5 separate regions of the Homo sapiens genome follow, and regions 1, 3, 4 and 5 are each reported to be linked to region 2. Evidence: microRNA targets listed by miRTarBase, many of them from high-throughput screens and not tested one by one. Region 2 holds a microRNA gene; each other region holds the end of a gene's coding sequence.

The links. Region 2 holds the annotated microRNA hsa-miR-6130 (UGAGGGAGUGGAUUGUAUG, at 2,576-2,594, shown strand). A microRNA usually pairs through its seed, bases 2 to 8, with sites in the 3' UTR of a target mRNA and lowers its output. Matches are read on the target gene's strand: a 7mer-m8 pairs with bases 2 to 8, a 7mer-A1 pairs with bases 2 to 7 and ends in A, and an 8mer does both.
Region 1: miRTarBase lists SP2 as a target of hsa-miR-6130. Seed matches in the 3' UTR shown: 7mer-m8 at 1,304-1,310.
Region 3: the mRNA of PPFIA3 is a reported target of hsa-miR-6130. Seed matches in the 3' UTR shown: 7mer-m8 at 838-844 and 7mer-m8 at 1,005-1,011.
Region 4: the mRNA of SFT2D2 is a reported target of hsa-miR-6130. Seed matches in the 3' UTR shown: 7mer-A1 at 3,486-3,492, 7mer-m8 at 3,218-3,224 and 7mer-m8 at 3,214-3,220.
Region 5: miRTarBase lists HACE1 as a target of hsa-miR-6130. The part of its 3' UTR that is shown has no 7-base or 8-base seed match.

The regions. Positions count from the first base shown.
Region 1 is chr17:47,927,360-47,931,511 of GRCh38, forward strand. SP2 (Sp2 transcription factor) reads left to right here. Exons shown (of 7, transcript NM_003110.6): 7 at 365-1,598. The coding sequence ends at 465. The region is part of intron 1 of SP2-AS1 (SP2 antisense RNA 1); the gene reads right to left. Among named protein-coding and RNA genes, the nearest start is that of SP2-AS1, 12 kb to the right of the region's middle. RefSeq lists an enhancer at 10-511.
Region 2 is chr21:23,076,779-23,080,930 of GRCh38, forward strand. It overlaps MIR6130 (microRNA 6130), which reads left to right and starts at 2,506; the gene lies at 2,506-2,614.
Region 3 is chr19:49,149,752-49,153,751 of GRCh38, forward strand. It overlaps PPFIA3 (PPFI scaffold protein A3), which reads left to right. Exons shown (of 30, transcript NM_003660.4): 29 at 329-400; 30 at 485-1,275. The coding sequence ends at 387. It overlaps HRC (histidine rich calcium binding protein), which reads right to left. Exons shown (of 6, transcript NM_002152.3): 1 at 3,656-4,000; 2 at 3,510-3,580; 3 at 2,559-2,627; 4 at 2,253-2,307; 5 at 1,766-1,802; 6 at 1,447-1,581. The coding sequence ends at 1,545. Among named protein-coding and RNA genes, the nearest start is that of HRC, 3.6 kb to the right of the region's middle. RefSeq lists an enhancer at 1,581-2,190.
Region 4 is chr1:168,242,289-168,246,440 of GRCh38, reverse strand. SFT2D2 (SFT2 domain containing 2) reads right to left here. Exons shown (of 8, transcript NM_199344.3): 8 at 1-3,940. The coding sequence ends at 3,901. It also overlaps the pseudogene ANKRD36BP1. Among named protein-coding and RNA genes, the nearest start is that of SFT2D2, 18 kb to the right of the region's middle.
Region 5 is chr6:104,725,934-104,730,085 of GRCh38, forward strand. It overlaps HACE1 (HECT domain and ankyrin repeat containing E3 ubiquitin protein ligase 1), which reads right to left. Exons shown (of 24, transcript NM_020771.4): 24 at 2,161-3,831. The coding sequence ends at 3,729. Among named protein-coding and RNA genes, the nearest start is that of HACE1, 130 kb to the right of the region's middle.

The DNA.
Region 1 (4,152 bases), not on the chromosome of region 2:
CCTGTCTCTACAAAAATACAGGAATTAGCTGGGTGCAGTGGCGGGCATCTGTAGTCCCAGCTATTTGAGAGGCTGAGGCAGGAGAATTGCTTGACCTGGGAGGTGGAGGTTGCAGTGAGTGGAGATTGTGCCACTGCACTCCAGCCTGGCCAGCAGAGTGAGACTCCATCTCAAAAAAAAAAAAAAAAAAAAAGATATAGATGAGTAAGCACCAGTGAGCAAATGTGAGAGCAGGAGGTGGGCAGAATGTGGTGACAAGGCCATGTCAGCTTGATTGGGTGCACCTCACACGCACCCCACCTTTTTGGGCAGAGACAGGGTCTGTGCACAGGGTCTGTGGGTGATGGGCATCTCCTCTTCCCAGGGGACAAACGCTTCGAGTGCGCCCAGTGTCAGAAGCGCTTCATGAGGAGTGACCACCTCACCAAGCATTACAAGACCCACCTGGTCACGAAGAACTTGTAAGGCCAACTGCGGCGGGAGGCCCTGAAGATGCAGTCCCCCACCTGTGTCCTCCCTGGGCCCCTGGTGGAAAGGAGCCCTGTGGCTGCCTTGGGCCTGCCCTCAGCCCCACTCCTGTTCTGCAACTGTCCCCACAGGAAGGGGCTCTGTTCCCTGTATTGTCCTCCTTCTGAAGCCCCTTGGCTCTGCCTTGGCCCTTCCCCTCACCACGAGCTCCCGGCCTGCCCAGACTGTGGACACTGGCCGTGCCCAATGAGACGTTCTAAACCAGGACGCGTGGGAACCCTTATTTCCAAAGGAAAAACATGCATTTCACTCCGTCGAGGAGCAAAGTGAGCCCCTACCCCCCACCCCGATCCCCGCTCCCAACACTGCCGGAGTCGCGTCATGCCATGCCCCCTCTCCTGCACCTCCCTGGCCCTGCCGGCCACTGTGGACGCCCTGGGGCTTGGCACCCACCTCTGGAGAAACTCGGGGCCACCTCCACTCCATGTGCCCAGCCCCGCCACAACCTCTCCTCCAGCACATTCCAGCTCTATTTAAAAAGTAAAGACACCCACCGACTCCTGATCCCCCTCTTTTTCTATGGAGAACGTTGCCTTATACTCTACTTCAGATGATGAACACTGTGTACTGTGTGTGCTTTAAAGAAGTTTTATTTAATTGCTCCCTTCTTCCTTTCCTTGTTATTCACCTCCCTGATGCCTGCTTTCAGTTGAGGGTTGGGGGCAATGATGAGCATATGAATTTTTTCTCACTCTAGCAATTCCCTTTTCTAAATGACACAGCATTTAAACTCAAATCTGGATTCAGATAACAGCACCTGCACATCCTGCACCTCCTCCCTCTCCCTTCACCTCACCCCTGCCCGGCCCAAGCTCTACTTGTGTACAGTGTATATTGTATAATAGACAATTGTGTCTACTACATGTTTAAAAACACATTGCTTGTTATTTTTGAGGCTTTTAAATTAAACAAAAATCCAACTTTATTTTTAGTTGTAACTGCTTGAGGTATGTTTTATGAATTAAGTGACAGATTTGTTATCCTTTATTAACGTACTTTGTTGGTCAGCACTGGGCTGACAAAAATTTTTTCTTGCTAATAAATTTAGTTGCCTGAGGCAAAATCTTCAACTTGGCAGTTCGGCTTCCTTTGTCTTTTCCCTTGGAGAGCTCGGAGAGGGGACTCCAGAGGAGGGAGCTGTGGTCTCTCAGAGCGATCCACACTGGGACCAAGGTAGGACCTTGCCCTCCTGACCCTCGGCAAACCCAAGCCACATGCCCAAAAGGGGCCGCGGCCACATATACCTCATGACACTGGCACGAGCCCCCAGAGCACCTCCAAGGGCCAGGGCCCAATGCAGGTGTTCCTGCCTTTTTCTTCTGTAAGCCAGTTTTGCCTGTACACAAAGCAGATACGAAGAGCCAAGTTACAGCAGTGACCTCAGCCAGCAACTTAGCTCTTCCACCCACCTCCCCAACCCCTGGAGGAAGGCATTGGCCTCAGAGCCCATTAATAAGAAGCTTAGAGAGGAGAGCCAATGGGGCCTTGGCTCAGTCCCCTCCAGAAGGCTACAGTCTGGCAACAATGCATTTCCCCAAGGGCCAAGGTCCCTTCCCAAAGTGAAGGGCGAGGCAGGTTCCTGGGAGGGCTTGGCAGCTAGAGAGGCCTGGAGCCCAGCTGCACCCGATAGAGGACTCTGGCCACAGATACTGGTTCCTTCTATATCGCCTGCCCAGTAACCCAGAGAGGACAAGAAGTTGATTGTGCCTTTTGGTTTTAGCAGATGCTACAAATCTGAAATTTTGGTGGGGATTTGTTTTGCTTTGTTTTGCAGAACTAATAGGAACTCAGGGGTTGCGATGTTGTGCAGATTAAGATTGGAGCTAGCTCAGTACATGTGTTTAAGCCCCACAGGGCCCTGAAGAGCATCCGGCCTGAAGAGACAGGCAAGTCCGCCTCAAGCATGTAAAGGACAGCATGTGCTTTCACTCACCCTCGAAAGGACACAGCTGGGATTGCTGTTCTGTTCAGGAGTGGCGAGGCTCGTTTTGAGCTATCCATTCCCCTGCTCTGTTCCCTTTGTCACCAGCCACCTGTGTCTGCCAGCAAACAGCTTTTCCTTAGAGCCAGTCAACCCTCAAATGGCTGAAAAAGTAAAAAGCCCACAGATCTCAGATGGATCCAGGTTCTCTGCCCTTTCCCTCTTCTTTGTTAACAAGCAGGGGCCTTTCCTATCCCTACGGAAGTCGTTTGGGCAATACTAGACCACCAGCTGAATCTACCTTGACACAGAAGCCTCTTCCTCAGCCCCTCAGCTCTGCATCTCATCACCGCACTGGCAGCAGGTGGAAGACATGAGGTGTATTTATTCCTCATGCGTGGACTGCATGACTAGAAAACTGCCTTGCTGCATTCTGAATAAGGGGATTGGTGGAGAGAAGGGGAATATTAACAAAGTGACCTCTTTTTGCCACGTTTCCCTTGGCTTTGCTCTCAGGCACAAAGAATGATCCTTTCCTGGGAGCTGATTTCAAGCCATGTGCTTTATGCTTCCAGTACAGAAACTGACCTGACTCCCCAGCATCATTTGGAAATGAAGGTGCCAGCCCCAAGTTGGGCAGGATGAGCATTTCCCATGTAGGATTTCCCTTCTCCAGTGAGATGGGGGTTCAAAAGTTATGTCTGATCATCTCTGCCTCCCTTGGGATGGCTAAGAGCGAGAGAATGTATTCTGCCTAGCTGAGTGATGGCACAAGGAAAGCACAGAAAGACTTGTGGGCAAATTAACCCTCCTCTGGCTTTAACCTATCCATTATTTGAGAGTTGCAGGGGAACTGTTGAAGGTGTGATGCAGTCTAAGCTCACCCTAGGCAAGAGGCTCCCACAGACACCTGATCCTGATGGGCCCTTGATGAAAATCTGGGTGCAGCTCAAGGGTAGGGGCCCCACATGTGTAGTTCCTCCTCTGTCCTCTACTGTCCCCAGCGTCATGTGCACCAAAGCCCATCCCTCATGCCCTTCCTCTCTGTCCAGCTGACACTTGGCATTGTGCTCATTATCCCACAGCCTAGGATTCCATGCCTGGAAGAAAGAGGGACTGGGCAGGATTTCCCTCCCAAAGGCAAATCCAGGCATTATATGTACTTTTTTTTTTTTCTTTAACAAAACCAGCAAATGGGTCTTCCTTGCCCTTCCTTCAGACCACCCAGTCCATTTTTACAATCATCTTTCTGGCCGGGCACAGTGGCTCATGCCTGTAATCCCAGCACTTTGGGAGGCCGAGGCGGGTGAATCACTTGAGGTCAGGAGTTCAAAACCAGCCTGGCCAACATAGTGAAACCCTGTCTCTACTAAAAAATATAATAATTAGCCGGGCGTGGTGGCGCATGCCTGTAGTCCCAGCTACTTGGGAGGTTGAGGCAGGCAGGAGAATTGGTTGAACCCAGTAGGCAGAGGTTGCAGTGAGCCGAGATCGTGCCACTGCACTCCAGCCTGGGTGACAGAGCAAGACTCTGTCTCAAAAAAAAGAAAAAAAATCATCTTTCCAGTGCCCTTGTGAGGCCCCAGGCTTGTTTGATGACAGTGCTGATGTTACAGCCTGCCACACGACATATTTTGAGGAAGACAGGATGGAGCAAGATAAGGGTTCAGATCTATCCCCAAGCCCAGGGTAGGTGTGTAGGA
Region 2 (4,152 bases):
TTTTAAAAATTACTGGAAAAACGGAATGAAAATCCAGGAGAAAAAATATGCAAAAGGTATGAACAGATAATATTAAAGTAATATAAACATTGCCTTACACATGTGCAAGACGTCCAGTTTCATGCAATAAGAGATTTACAAGTTAAACCTAGATTGAAACATTTTTCTCACCTATTAAAATTACAAAAATTCAAAATTTTGATAGAATACTGTGCTGGTAAAACCATGCCAAATAGCCACTCATATATGGCCAAAGGGAAGGAGGAATGGTAGAATTTCTATGGCTGGAAATATGGCACTAAGCAGAGAAACTGATGCAGTAAGCCCACTACTAAGAAATTCCTTGAAATTACACACCTAAAACAATATGAAAATAATCACAGTTATTAATTGTAGCATCAACTATAAGGTCACACTATTGGAAGTAATCTTAATGCTCACACATAAAAATAGCTAAATAAACTAAGGTATAGCCACACAATTTTTTACAATGCAGAGATTTAAAAAAAGGAAAAATGTCTCTATCAACTGCTAAGGAATGATAGCAAGGATATATATTGTTAAGTAACAAAGAGGAAAGTGTAAAGTAGTGTAAATAGTGTGTTGCCATTTATAGTAAATACCTTGGCAAAAATAAGCAAAGAAATGATAAAGCAAATGTTATAAATCTGGTTACCTAAAGAGAATGATTGATAAATGTAAGAAATAATGGGAAAGGGTTTTTAATTTTGAAATTATGTTACCAATTTATATATTTCAGTAGATATAAATGTTAAGAAATGAAAAAGAAAATTCGAAACAATGCAAAAACAAAATATATTAAATTGATAACATAAATACATTGAAGAAAAAAATAATACAAGTAACTTTGACATGTATTTGAATCCAAAGACAAAAAGAAACTTAGATATTTTGAAAAGGAAATTTGTTTGCTCTCATATGTTTGTTGCACCACTGTTTACAGTAGGTAAGATTTGGAAGCACTCTAGGTGTCCATAAACAGGTGAATGGATAAAGAAAATGTAAACATCCACAATGGAGTACCACTCAGCCATAAAAAAAGAATGAGATCCAGTCATTTGCAACAACATGGATGGAACTGGAGATCATAATGTAAGTGAAATAGGCACAGAAAGACAAACAATGCATGTTCTCATTTATTTGTGGGATCTAAAAATCAGAACAATTGAACTAATGGACACAGAGAGAGGATGGTTACCAGAGGCTGGGAAGGGTAGTGGAAGATTGGGAGGGGAGATGAAGATGGTTAATGGGTGCAAAAAATAAGAAATAAAAAAGAATGAATAAGATCTACCATTTGATAGCACAATAAGGTGACTATCATCAATAATAACTTAATTGTATATTTTTAAATAACTTAAATAATGTAATTGGATTATTTGTAATTCAAAGTATAAATGCTTGAGGGAATGGATACCCCATTCTCTCATTCTCTATGATGTGCTTATTTCACATAGCATGCCTATATCAAAACATCTCATATACCCCATAAATATATATACCTAATATGTATCCACACAAAATTAAAGAAATAAATTTTGATATTTTCTTTAAATATATTTAATTAACCAATAAAGATCATATATATTCTGATTACTCAGTGTGATAATTTAATATATACAATATTGAGTAATAATTATCAAAACAAATAGGGGCCTGCCTCTTAAAAAGAAAGATATTTTGAACCCAACTTCATAGGTTTGTTGTTCATAGTGCAGTTGGTATAACACTTTTGAAAATATATTAAACAAAGGGTAAGTATATTAATATATTTGAGAATTCTCACTGTGGGAAATGGAGAATACATGTATGTAATGGCATAAGTTTAGATGGATATTAGAAGTAGCAGAATAAACCCATAATTTTTATTTTAGAGCTTTATTGAGATATAATGCATATACTCTTCACCCACTTAGGATGTGCAATACAATGAAGTGTTCTCAGAGTTGTGCCTCCATCATCACAATCAAGTTTAGAACATTTTCATTAGCCCCAAAAGAAACTCCATAACCAATAATGGTTATTCCTTATTTCTCTAACTCCTCCACCGCCAGTTCTCCTCTCCCCAACCTTCCTGGCCTTATACAATCACTTGTCTACATTTTTTCTCTATATGTTTGCATATCTAAACATTTAAACAATTATTATATCTAACTTTAATTGTATATCCTTTGACCAGGATCACCCAATCCCTCTCCTCCTACTTAGCTCAGCCTCTGGTAACCACTACTCAACTCTCTGCTTCTACGAGTTCCACTTTTTAGATTCCACATATGTGAGATCATGTGGTATTTCTGTCCTGGCTTATTTCTCTTAGCATGAAATCATCCAGGTTCATTGATGTTGTCACAAATGGTGGGATTTTGTTCCTGTTTGTGACCGAATACTCTTCCATTATGTAAATATACCACATTTTCTTTAGTGATTCTTCTGCTAATAGACACTTAGGTTGATTTCATGTCTTGGTTATTGTGAATAATGCTGCAATGAATGTGGAAATGCAGGCATCCCTTCTATATACTGATGTAATTTTCCTTGGATTTATATGCAGTACTGAGGGAGTGGATTGTATGGTAGTTCTATTTTTACATTTTCTGAGGAAACTCCATGCTGTTTTCCCTAATAGCACTAATTTATATTCCCACTAACAGTGACAATTTTGGCACATTATTTACAATATTTATCTTCTGCCTTTTTGATAATAGTAATCCTAGTAGAAATTAGGTAATATTTCATTTTGGTTTTGATTTTCCATATCCTAATGATTATGATGTTGAGCATATTTTAATATACAGGTTGGCCATTTGTATGTTTTCATTTGAAACGTATCTATTCAAGTCTTTTAGCCATTTTTAAAAGGGTTATTTGTTTTCTTGCTATTAAGTTCCTTATATATTTTGAATATTAACTCCTTATCAGATGTATATTTTGCAAATTTTTTTCCATTTTGTAGATTGCCTCTTCACTGCTGTACAGAAGCTTTTTTCACTTTAAATAGTATAATTTGTCTAATTTTTACTTTTGAGGTTTTAAATAGAAAATCCTTGACCAGCCCACACGAATGTCGTGGAGCTTTTCCCTAGTAGCTTTCACAGTTTGGGATCTTACATTTAAATATGTAATCCATTTTCAGTTGATTTTTGAATATGGTGAGACATAGAGAGTCTTGTTTATTCTTCTGCATGTGAATATCCAGTTTTCACAGCACCATTTTTTGAGGAGGCTATCTTTTTCTCATTGGGTGTTCTTGCCAGATTTATTGAAAATCAGTTGGCTATAAATGCACATATTTATTTTTGGGCTCTCTGTTCTGTTCCATTGGTCTATGTGTCTGCTTTTATGCTACTACCATAATGTTTTGGTTACTATATCTTTATAGATAATTTTAAAGTCAGGTACTGTTATGATTTCAGCTTTGGCTATTTGGGGTTCTTTTGTGATTTGATACTAATTTTAGGATTTTTTTTTCAATTTATGTGAAGAATGCCATTGGTGTTTTCATGAGCATTGCATTAAATCTGTAGATCACTTTGGGTACACTTTAACAATGTTCATTCTTCTATTTAATGAAAATGAAAAATCTATATATTTATGTTTTCTTCAATTTATTTAATCAATGATTTATAGTTTTCAGTGTAAGATCCTTCACCTCCTTGGTTAAAGTTTTTTCTAGGGTTTTTTTTCTAAATAGCTGTTGTAAATGAAATTGTCTTCTTGAATTCTTTTTTTCAGATAGTTTACTATTAGTATATAGAAATGTAACTGATTTTTTGTGTGTTGATTTTGTATCTTGCAACTTTACTGGATTTATATATTAATTCTAACTGTTTTCTGGTGTAATCCATAGAGTTTTTTATATGTAACATCATGTCATCTGCAAACAGATAATTTACCTTTTTAATTTCTCTTTCAATCCCTTTTATTTCTTTCTTCTGTCTAATTGCTCTGGCTAGGACTTCTAGTACTATGTTGAATAGAAGTGATGAAAGTGGACATCCTTGTCTTGTGCTAGATTTTAGAGGAAAAGCTTTCAACTTTTCTCTGTTCCGTATGGTGTTATTTCTAAGTTTGTCATATATGGGTTTTATTGTGTTGAGGTACATTTCTTCTGTAACTAATTGTTGAGAGTTT
Region 3 (4,000 bases), not on the chromosome of region 2:
GCTTCCCTAGGGTGGGGCATGGACCACCTCAGTAGTCCGGGTTCTGGAATGGCCTAGTCCTTTCTCGCCCACCCCTGAGGAATGGACTGCTCCAACGTTCCGGACTCCCCCGTCAGGATGAAATGGATAAATCCCACTCCCCCTTCCCAGGGCGGGAGTGAACTCGCCCAATGCGAGTTTGAGTCCTTGGCTGCGGGGAAGGGAGGGAAACCCATGTGGAGCCCGGCGATCGTTGTGACATCGGGAAGGGAAGTCCAAAGGGAGGAATCCTGGAGAGGAACAGGGAGGAGGGTGCTCCAGGCTGAACCGCTGCTCGCTCTCCCTCCAGGCCAGACTTCTGGGAGTTCCCGGGCAGACGGCGTTTCGGTCCGGACCTATTCCTGCTAGTGCAGGCCTCCAGGTGAGGACCGTGCTGGGCGACCTTGGGGGTGCGGGGCGGCACGGTGGATCTTCACTGCTCCACGCGCTGCCCGGCGTCATGCAGGTGACCTCACTCGGACGGAAGAATCTTCCCGAGGCTGGGCTGTTCCCTCTCCTGCCCGGACTGTGGCCTCGCCGGGGAGAGCGGGCGGGGGAGCTCGCGCCGAGGACTGGACCATCTGTACAGACCAGCGGGAGTGCGCGCGCCCGCCTCGCACAGGGCCGGGGCCTGGACCAAACCACATGAACTGGACTGAGAGGGGGAAGAAGCGGGGAGGAAGAAATCCCGCCCCAAACGTCCGCTTTCCTTTTCTCTACTTTGTAATTTATTGATCAGTTTCTGTTGGGAGACGGGTGTCCTTTACCCGCGGGAAGGGGGCGGGGCTTCCCTCCCGGGCCGCATGCGGGGAGAGGCTGCTCCCTCCCCTTTTTCCTGCCCAGTCGCGGGGCCCAAGTCTTCCTTCTTCGTCCGAAAGGAGGGGAGGGGGGACTCGCTGCTACAAGCCTCGCCCCCTGTGCCACTCAGCTCCGCCCCGCCGCGTCCGGTCGCCGGTCCCCCGGGTCATCTGCGGGCGGGTTCCCCTCTCCCTCCCCCGTGTCTCGTGTCCCCGGGGCCTCACCGCCCCCCGTGCTGTGGCCGTGTCCGTGCCCCGGGGGTAGGGGGCGCAGAATGGCGCTTCCCCTTCTCCTCTGGCTCCGGGGTTTGCATGGGAGAATCCTCTTTCCACGATGCCGCTGGGCGACGTGGCGTGGGGGCAGGGGGACGGTGGGGGAGCCCTCGCCCCCGACTCTCGGTCGGCCTCCCCGCCCCAGGCGTCACTCAGTGATCACGGGTAAAGAGAACTGTTTCAAAAAGCTTCCTTGTTGACTGATTTTTTTTTTGCGGGGGGGGGGGGGGCTGTTCAACCAACCACCTCGAGCCAGGAGTCCAGGCCCCTCATCCCTCAAGTCTAGGTCCAGGTCTCTAGACCCTACCCGCATTCCCCGATGCCCTGAGATTCCCAGACCCCACGTCTGACAATGAGGTTTCGGGGAGCACGTTTATTCGGAGAAATAAATATAGCTCGTGGAAAGGGGTTGGAAGGCAGGGGGAGGTACACCTGCGTCGCAGTCGAGCGACTGGGTCAGGGTTCCGGCGTTTCCAGCATGTCTGCCAGGGCCCTGGAGACGAGAACGCCAGAAGTTAGACAGCTGGTGTTCAAAGCCCACCCCAGGACGCTTAGAGATCATTAACCTGCCCATTTCATGGACGGGGAAATGGAGTCCCAGAGTCATCTGATAACTCATAGCGAGACAAGCACTTCTCTAAACGGGGCTTTTACACGCTCCCCTTTTACACACTTACTGATAAAGGGACGAGGAGAAATAGTCAACGTAGCTTCCTGTGGGACAGCAGAGAAAAGAGGCTTGAGGGGTACTGCACGAGCAAAATTAGGCAGCCACTCAGTATAGCGTGCGAGATTAGTGCTAGCTCCACCTCCTTTTCCCTAATTCCTTCTTCCAACTGAATCCCTTCTACCGGACCCCTTTTTCGTTCTGGGTGATTCCGTTCTCCAGTAGCCCCGCCCCTTCGATTCCTACTTGAGTTGGCCTCGCCCATTAGGCTCTAAGCCCGCATCTCAACCCTCCACTCATTTCTGTCCCTTGGCTCCAGCAACTCCACCTGGTGTTCCTCGAGCCAGGCCCCGGCCCACGTGCTCAGAGCCTTGGCCACGCCTCCCCTCTTAGCCCCGCCCCACCAGCCTACCGGGCCAGGCTCCGCCCCCACCAGGATTCACCACGCTGGGCCCGGCACCTTCCTCAGGTTTTTCCAGGGCCCCGCCCATGCTCACCTGGAGCGCAGACCGTTTCGCAGACCAGCGGGCAGAGATAGCAGAACTGACAGTGCTGGAGGCGGGGACGGGGAGAGAGAGTGAGCGTGGGGCGTGGCCGGGGGCGGAGTTAGGATGGGGCCGGGACCAGACCCGGACCAGAGGCTAGGTCTAGGTTAAGGTTGGAGTCAGGATCGCTTGTGGAGTCAAGGTTGCATCAGGGGTAAGGGGTTGGGTCAGAGGCCAGGATTTAGGGCTGGGGGTCCTCAGAGGGTCCCGGTGCATCCTGAGGCCCAGTGGAGCCTTGAGTGTGAGGTGAGGTCTCACCTGGCACTGGTCGCAGTGCTCACCCATGTTCTCCTCATCACAGTGACAGCTCTCACATTCAGTGCATCGCTGGGGACCGGGGGAGCCTGGTTAGATGGAAACTCTAACGCCACTTGGGAGGTACCCGCCCCTGGCCCACCCCTGCACCCTGGACGCTTCCCCAGACTCTACCCTCTTTATCTCTAACACTGAGCTCTGTATCTGCCCCCCAAACCAGCCTCCCCTCCCCTCCCCTGCCCCTGGTTTCCTTCCTTTCCCTTTTTTTCCTTTTTTTTCTTGAGGCGGAGTCTCTCTCTGTCGCCCAGGCTGGAGTGCAGTGGCGCAACCTCAGCTCACTGCAACCTCCGTCTCCCGGGTTCAAGCGATTCTCCTGCCTCGGCCTCCTGAGTAGCTGGGATTACAGGTGCGTGCCACCACGCCCGGCTAATTTTTTTGTATTTTTTAGTAGAAATGGGGTTTCACCGTGTTAGCCAGGATGGTCTCGATCTCCTGACCTCGTGTTCCGCCCACCCTGGCCTCTTAAAGTGCTGAGATTACAGGCGTGAGCCACCACACCCGGCCCTGCCCCTGGTTTTCTATCTCAGGGCGACCCCATGTCTCCCTGTCAGGGTGGGCTCAGGTGCTCTCTCCACCCGCTCTCTGCCTATTCTCCCCCTAGCCTATCAGCCCCTGTGCCATCCCTCCTTCCCCCGACTCTCTTTGCCACAGACCCCTGTCTCTGTCCCCACACCCCAAGATGCAGCTTGGGTCTTGTCCTCTCCTTCCTGGACCACTGCCCCAGCCTCCCAGCCTTCAGTCTGTCCTCACCTCACATGCCTGCAGAAGGATCTCTTTTCTTTCAGAACTGACCCTGGCCTGCCCTTGCTCTGAGCCCTCCCACAGCACCACCCCAGGGCCCCTGGGACAGATTCTGGGGACACCTTGGTGGGTGGATCTGGGCTGGGGACATACATTGCAGAAGGAGCAGTAGCCACACAGGGACCCTGGCTGGTAGTTCCCATACTCCTGAGCATCCTGTGGACCTGCGGGGACAGGAGGGCAGCAGTGACCCAGGCTGACTCGGTTCCTTCCCACCCACACCAGCCCAGGCCACTTACCTGTGTCCTCACCGCTTTCCTCCTCGCTGGAGGCACCTCCAGCCTCCTCTCTCCTGTCCAGTGGGTTGGGGATGATGGTGAAGCGGGGCTCATCTTCCTCCAGCCCCTCCTCCTCCTCCTCTTCCTCCTCGCTGTGGTCTGGGCTCAGTGGGGCCCCAACCTCAGCCCTCTCTTCCCTCCTCTCCTCGTCTTCTTCCTCCTCCTCCTCCTCCTTGTCTTCCTCTTCTTCCTCCTCCTGGTTCAGGCTGAGGCCATGACCTTCCTCCTCATCCTCCTCATCTTCCTGGTCCCGGCTGCCATGATGGGTGCCTTTCTCTCCCTGCTCTGAACTTTCATCGTCTTCCT
Region 4 (4,152 bases), not on the chromosome of region 2:
CAAACGGTGTCAAATGAAGGACATTGAAAAAATGTACACAAGTGGCCAAGATAAAGTAGAAAAATGCACAGAAAAGCAAGTAAGATTATGTCAACTACGAAGACAAAATATGTTGCTTCAACAGCAACTGGATGATGTTCACAACAAAGCTGACAATCAAGAAAAAACAGTAATTGATAGTCAAGCCAAATGTGATGCTACAGCACAAAATCTTCAAGCTGAGTGCATAAAGCACCGTCTTTTGCTAGAAGAACAAGAGGATGATCAATAAAGTTAATCATTTGAAAGAAAAACAATGTCAATATGAAAGAGAGAAAGCAGAAAGAGAAGTAGTTGTGAGACAACTTCAACAAAAACAGGGTGACGTCCTAAACAATCAACAACAAAAGCTTTGCTGGATGCTTCATTGCGTCACTGCGTCCATTGAGAAAGTGAGATGTAGGATTCAAGGAAGAAATTAGGTCAGATGAGAATTCAATTTCAAGAAAAATGGAATCAACTTACAGCGACTATAAAATGTACTAAGGAGACGCAAGGCCACGTACAAAAACTTGAAATAGAAAATTCTAGTGTTAAGAAATACAATTAAAAAGCAAGATGGCCAAATTGAGCAGCTTCAGAAAATCCTGCGAAGTTCAAGTTTGATGCAGCAGTTATTGCAAGAAAATGAAACTACAGAAATAGATGAAGCTTCTTCTGAATTTAAATCTGGATCCTCTGTAGCAGAGGTTCCCAACCTACAGGCCATGGACAGGTCCATGACCTGTTAGGAACCAGCTGCACAGCAGGAGAGTTACTGTGGATCTTCTAGATCATCTGCATGCCATGTGAATCTTAAAACCAGTTTTTAATTTCTACAAAAAAAAAAAAAAAAAAGCCTGCTTGGCTTTGGATGGGGACTGCATTATATCTATAGATTAATATGGGAAAGAATTAACATCAACAATGTTGAGTCTCTCAACCTATCAACAAGATATTTACTTAGGTCTTAATTTTTCTTAGCAATGCTTTTTAGTTATCAGTGTACAGATAATCCACATAGTTTGTCGGGTTTATTCCCAAGAATTTTATATTTTAATGCTATTGTAAATGGTATTATTTTTAAATTTTCAATTCCTAATTCTTTACTTCTAACATGGAGAAACACAATTGATTTGTGTATATCAATTATATATCCTGCTGTGTTGCGAAACTCACTTGCTGGTTTCAGTAACTTAGTAATGGATTTGATTTGGTTTTCTACATAGATGATAATATCTGTGAATAGACAGTTTTACTCATTTCTTTTCAATCTAAAGGCCTTTCATTTTTCTCCTTCCCTCCCTCTTTCCCCCTACTCCCAATTAAAACATGATTGCAGTGGCTAGAATTTTCAGTACAACGTTGAATAGAAGTGGTAAGAGTTGACATCTCTGTCTTATTCTCAATCTTAGGGGAAAACATTCAGCCTTTCATCATTACATAGGATGTTAGCAGTAGATATTTTAAAGATGCCCTTCGACAGGTTGAGGAAATTCTCTTGTATCCCTAGTTTGCTGAGATTATTTTTTAAACAAAGCATGGTTGTTCAATCTAAAAAAAAAAAAAGGACATGGACATGGAGGGATGAGCCTTCTAGGTGTCTTATTCCAGGCTGCTGGAGCTGCTGGAGCTCACAGTGACTAGCCAAGCCTCGTATCAGTTCTAAAGAAAAGGAACCATGAGCCCTCCTGACCTCCTCCATGTCCCTTCTGACACCACAGCCCTTCTGAGATCTGTCTCCAAGAGGCACCTGGGATGTGAAAGAATCCCACAAAAGCCAGAGGGGTAGCATAAAATTTCCTTTCCTGGCTGAGGACAGGTTAGTGACCTGAGCAGATGACTGGATGTCATCAATAGCCTAGAAAGAACCTGGGAAGACTAGCTCCTCTCTCTGGCCCCGTCAGGCTTGTTCACACCTCCCCAGCCTCAGAAGAAAAGATCAGCAGGGCACAGTGGCTCACACCTGTAATCCCAGCACTTTGGGAGGTCAAGGTGGGCGGATTACCTGAGGTCAGGAGTTCCAGACCAGCTTGGCCAACATGGTGAAACCCTGTCTCCACTAAAAACACAAAAATTAGCACGGGCGTGGTGGCGGGCACCTGTAATCCCAGCTACTTGGAAGGCTGAGGCAGGAGAATTGCTTGAACCCGGGAGGTGGAGGTTGCAGTGAGCAGAGATCACGCCACTGCACTCCAGCCTGGGCGACGGAGTGAGACTCCATCTCAAAAAGAAAAAAAAAAAAAAACCAGTCAGAGTTCTTAGCCACAGTAGGACAAAGAAAGGTTCAGCAATTAGCCACAAGAAAGGGGACAACCAGCAGGCCACTTCCTTTGGTTTAGCAGTGACAGAGGAGGAGCCCTAGTGGACCAGTTGGCCCTGTGCAAAGAACAGAAAGGCAATCCAGATAAACGTCATTTGTAGGATGACTCTGGAGGTCCTGGAGGGCCAGGAATGCTGGCTGACAAGACAGGGCACTAATCGTAGTCAGGCAACAAGGAGGAGCTGAAAGGGAACACAAGGGACAGTGAACATCCTGCAGATCCAGGAAGAAGCTTCCAAAAGAGATGGGCAGGGAGGGCCAGGGAGGAGATGGCTTGGCTGATGAAAACGAGGGAAACAGTCACAGGCAGTTACAGGAGGCACAACCAGAAACAGGCCAGGAAACTCTGGGGTCATGAAGGAGGCTGAAGCTGTGGCTTTGGGTGGATCCAAAAACCAGTGTGGGCCTTGATTCCCTTGACTGCACAGTGGTATAACAATCCCTGCTTCCTCACAAGGCTCTCCATAAGAACCAGGTAAGATCGTGGACACAAAAGCACTTTGTAGGTTAGGCATCAGGCTGACATGAGACCACCTGCAGTTTATCCCCAGTGTCCCCAGCACAGGCTAAGTGCAAACACTGGGACTATTTAAAGGTCACTGGGCAGGCGTGCCTACTTCCTGCTGGCTGCACAGCAGGGATCTGTCTTCCCACCCCACTCTCCCCTGGCCCAACTCCAGGGGAGAATGGAAAATAAAATCAGTTTAAAAGCAAACATTTATAAATAATGGAGAAAAAAATATAGCTGAGAGCAGCAGGATTTTTCAACTCCTATGGGCTCTCGTCCAAAAAAAAAACAGCAGCATTTTCTGCTGCTGCTCTGTTCTTTCCCCATCTAGTGCCAGGAGGTCATAAAGAAAGATATGCAGGGAGAGGGAGGGAGGGATGGGAAATAAAACCCAAGAGAAAAAGAGTCTGCACCTAATGTCAGAAAATACATTCCACAGTCAGGCGCAGAATCAGAACACCAAGAATGCTTAGATTCAAATTCAGAAACAGCATATACCACCAAAAAGTGCTTCTTTTCTACCTCACTCCATGGCCAGGCTCTCCAGGGGCTTGTCTAAAGCAGAGTCACTTGTTCTCAGATGCCAGAGTAGAAGCAGACTCACTCTATGCAGGACCACGGTGATGGCTTCCATGCTGAGGGACAAGTGGACCCCAAAACTCTGTCCCTTACTGTTGCTCCCGTGATCTCTGATGGGGCTGCCTTTTGCCACCTGGGAATCACTTGCACCCAAGGCTTATGTGCTGTTGCTGAATAGGTTTGTATTCATGGGAATTCAGTGGGACAACATCCAGAGAGGAAACAGGTACATGAGGAAGATTCCACTCCACAAGATACAGAACCCACTTCTCATCCTGTGCTACTGACATTCAGGTTCGAGAATGTATTGTTGCTTCCAAAAGTAACCCTCAAATGTTCGAATCACAAGCAACACATTGCTGCAAGATAAAAGGCACATGTCTGTAAGACAGAGGTTTCGAAGATAGTTACAAAACTGTCCACCAGCTTCTGTCCATAGTGCCTTCCAAAGCTTCATAAAACTGGCCATGAATTATGCAAGACACACGGCAAAACACTTCTTCACAGCATCCCTAGGAAAGAAAAGACACAAAGATGAGTGGAACGTCATCACCCCAAAGGCACTCCTTTAGAGGGCACCCAGAGTGGAAGCTGCAGAGTAGAAAGCACCTAGACTGAAAGATCAGACCTTCACAGCATCAAACTGCAGCTTCAACATTTATTAGTAGTACTATCCTGGGAAAGTTCCTTGTCCTGTTTGAGTTTCAAATTCCTCATCTGTAAG
Region 5 (4,152 bases), not on the chromosome of region 2:
ATAATCCCAGCACTTTGGGGAGGCTGAGGCGGGTGGATCACTTGAGGTCCCTAGGGGTTCAAGACCAGCCTGACCAACAAGATGAAACCCCGTCTTTATTAAAAATACAAAAATTGGTCGGGTGTGATGGTGCATGCCTAAAATCCCAGCTACTCGGGAGGCTGAGGAGCAGAATCACTTGAACCCAGGAGGTGGAGGTTGCAGTGAGCCGAGATCATGCCACTGCACTCCAGCCTGGGCAACAGAGTTAAAAAAAAAAAAAAAAAAAAAAAGAGGGTAGAAAAAAGAGGGGGGAGGGAGGGGGGAGAGAGAGAGAGGAGGAAATGGCAAACTGGAGAGGGCATTTAGTTATTCAAAGCAGCAGCATTTACTCAATTCCATAATGCTTTGCAGGAATATGCACCCATGCACCCAATATTGTCAGATTGTCTCACTGCTCAAAAGGACCCAAAACTCCTGACTTCTGCATGAAATCTTCAGGTTTTGTAAAATCTTGGTAACTCATTCAAAATTTTAGAAACAGTATGACAAACAAAACATGTGAGTAGGAATCATCTCCTGGGCCTCCAACTTGTGAGCTATCCTTTAAAGCTTGCGTTTCCCGATACCCAAAAGACTGCCTGAATAGTAGAGGCTGTGTTCAGCAGATTATTTCCAAGCTGGGATTTCCTTCTATTACATTTTGTTTTGGGGTTAACTTGAAAATGGATTTTATTAACTACGTGGTTAATAACTATCTCCTCAAACTATTTGGATAACTTAATCTACTCTGCCCAGATAGTTTCATTAATCAGTTTCCTATAATACATTCCCTTGCTTTATATTCGAGTGTTTTATTTCTGTTTTCTTCCTTATATGAAACTACCATGTTTTAAGAATTGAGTCATTTTCCTATTAATATAATCTTTTTCCCAAAGGAGAAAATCTAACCATTTTTCTATACTACCTTGCATTCAACATATCCATCTACATACAGAAGAAATTGTGGGAATGGAGTAAATTAGAAAGATGCTACCTCTAAATAGTATTTTTAATCTTTGTAAAATCTCTTTATATTAACTACACTCTTATTTTAAAAATGTGAAAAAATAAATCCTAAAATAAGCAGATCTATATTTTAAAATATTCAAATTGATGGTTAAAATACTATTTTATATATATGCATATGGGTGTGTGTATATATATGTATATGGGTATATATATGGGTATATAGATACACATACATGTATACGAATATATATACACATATATATGTATACGAATATATACACATACATGTATACGAATATATATACACATATATGTATACGAATATATATACATGTATGTATACGAATATATATACACATATATGTATACGAATATATATACACATGTATGTATACGAATATATATACACATGTATGTATACGAATATATATACACATGTATATGTATACGAATATATATACACATGTATATGTATACAAATATATATACACACACATGTATATGAATACACACACATGTATATGAATACACACATATATGAATACACACACATATGTATATGAATACACACACACATATGTATATGAATACACACACACGTATGTATATGAATACACACACACGTATGTATATGAATACACACACACGTATGTATATGAATACACACACACGTATGTATATGAATACACACACACGTATGTATATGAATACATACACACGTATGTATATGAATACATACACACGTATGTATATGAATACATACACACATATATATGTATATGAATATATACACACATATATATGTATATGAATATATACACACATATATATGTATATGAATATGTACACACATATATGTATATGAATATGTACACACATATATATGTATATGAATATATACATATATATATTTTTTTTGAGACAAAGTCTCACAGGCTGGAGTGCAGTCACATGATCATGTCTCATTACAGCCTCGATCTCCTGGGCTCAAGCGATCTCGCACCTAGCCTTCCAACCACAGGCACATGCCACCATGCCCAGCTTATTTTTATTTTTTTGTAGAGATGGGGTCTGCCTATGCTGTCTAGGCTGGTCTTGACTTCTGGTCTTAAGCAATTCTCCCACCTCAGCCTCTCGAAATGCTGAGATTACAGACATAAGCCACCACACTCAGTTATTTAATATTTTATTATCTATCTCTTTTACATAACTACTTGCAAAAAAAACTAATATGACAAAGCCAATGTATTATATGGTTATAAACAGAAACATATCTGTAAACATTAGTATTATAAGCAGTGTAATATTAAAGGTGGTTATCTATTTGAAAACTCAGAAGGCAGTGACTTCTACAATTAAATTTCAAAAAATCAAAACATAAAACATTATTAGCTTCAGTTACTATAAATAAAGCATCCGAATCTTAATTTTAGAGCTAATGGTAACTTTTAAATAATTCCTAAATTTCATGTAATCTGTTAAGATATATTTTGTTAACATTTAGAAAAGACAAGAGAATAAGAGAATCAAAACCAACGAATTAAAGGAGCTTTATAATTTAGCAAAACTTTCAACTTACATGTCTCTCAAACATTACTGGCAAACACAATGACTGCTTATGAGAAAATCTGCATATGTCATTCTACAAACAGTAATGTCATTAATATTCTATTTTTAGTTTCCAAGGGAAGATCCTAAACATAACAAATCCTTCCGTTAGCATTTCTTCGTGTATGCATGTTCCTACTTCCTGTTCAAACATATGCTGTAACTATTCAAGTACGTCTTTTCAAAATAAAACTGATTAACCACCCAAAAATTCAAAAACCCACCAACATCCAAGTGATATTAGGCACATATCACTTGAACTTGACATTTTAATGATGAAAAGCAAATTTAAGAAGCAAAAAAATTAACATATTTAAATTATAATTTGCACATCAGATTACTTTTTCAGATGTGTCAGAGCTCACAGATAAAAGTAATGAAAAGAAACGTGGTAAAATACATTTTAATTTTACCTTCATTATAAATTAAAATGAGGCGTAAGAAAAACATTGAGACCATAATATATACATATGGAAAACTGGCCACTGAAAGATGCAAATAATTCATACAATATAGCGTAAGCTTTCATATATAAATTATATGTCATTTCATCAACTGTTAGTATCATCAGTCTAAATTTTACAATATATATTAAAATATTAAAATGCTAAAAAAATCATTGCAATATAGAATACACTGTGGCAAAATACGTATTTGTGGCTTTATAGACAATCTAAATCCATTCTATACAATAGTTTTCTAAAATATAAATGGCAGTTTACATGCAAAAGAACACACCAGCTGGATGACCTCATATAATATATCAGAAATTAGGAGAAAACACCCTTTTAACAAGACAGTTACATAGCAGAGGTGGAATGTAGAATCAGATTTTGCCTTAATACAATCTTGGATAAAATTAATTATGAAAAAGGACAGTCTCTATTACTTTCAGTTAGCATTTTAAAAAATAAAATCTACTGTGATTTTATATTTTCTAATTGTATCACAAACAGAGAAAACATAAAAGGGAAAAGAGAGAAACAGAAAACCTGATGATCCTTTATAAATTGGAAGCATCAGCCCTGCCTATGGGTTGCATTTAGGCTGCTTTTTTGTTGACATTTTCCCAAATTACTTCTGCCATTCTGAATTGTGCATCAGTAGTCAGAGGAGTTTTCCAGACTTCATTATGCCATTGTGTAACCATAGCTGCCACAATGTAGTGCCACAAGAAGTCTGTCCTTGAGTATTTCTTTACTTGGGTATTCAGGTAACTTGAGCATGTTGATGCTTTAAAAGAAAAATATACCACCATTAAACAGGAAATCTATAAAATTTCTGATTGTTTTGCCTAGCAGTGAAAACACTACTCATAATTAACATAAAATCATCCTCCCAAATTTGCATTCAGATTGAAAAACCCTAAAGTGGTATTTAAAAAGAAGAAAAAATCTGCTGCATTGCAGTTTCTTTCAGCATGCAAATGCAGTGGAAGAAAATACGTTCCTTTCAGCTTAAAATAAATAAGCAATAGGGCAATTTAGTTTGAAGTGATGGTGTGTAACTCAGTGCTACTTACGGTAGTGTAACTTTAGTGATACTTGAACTATA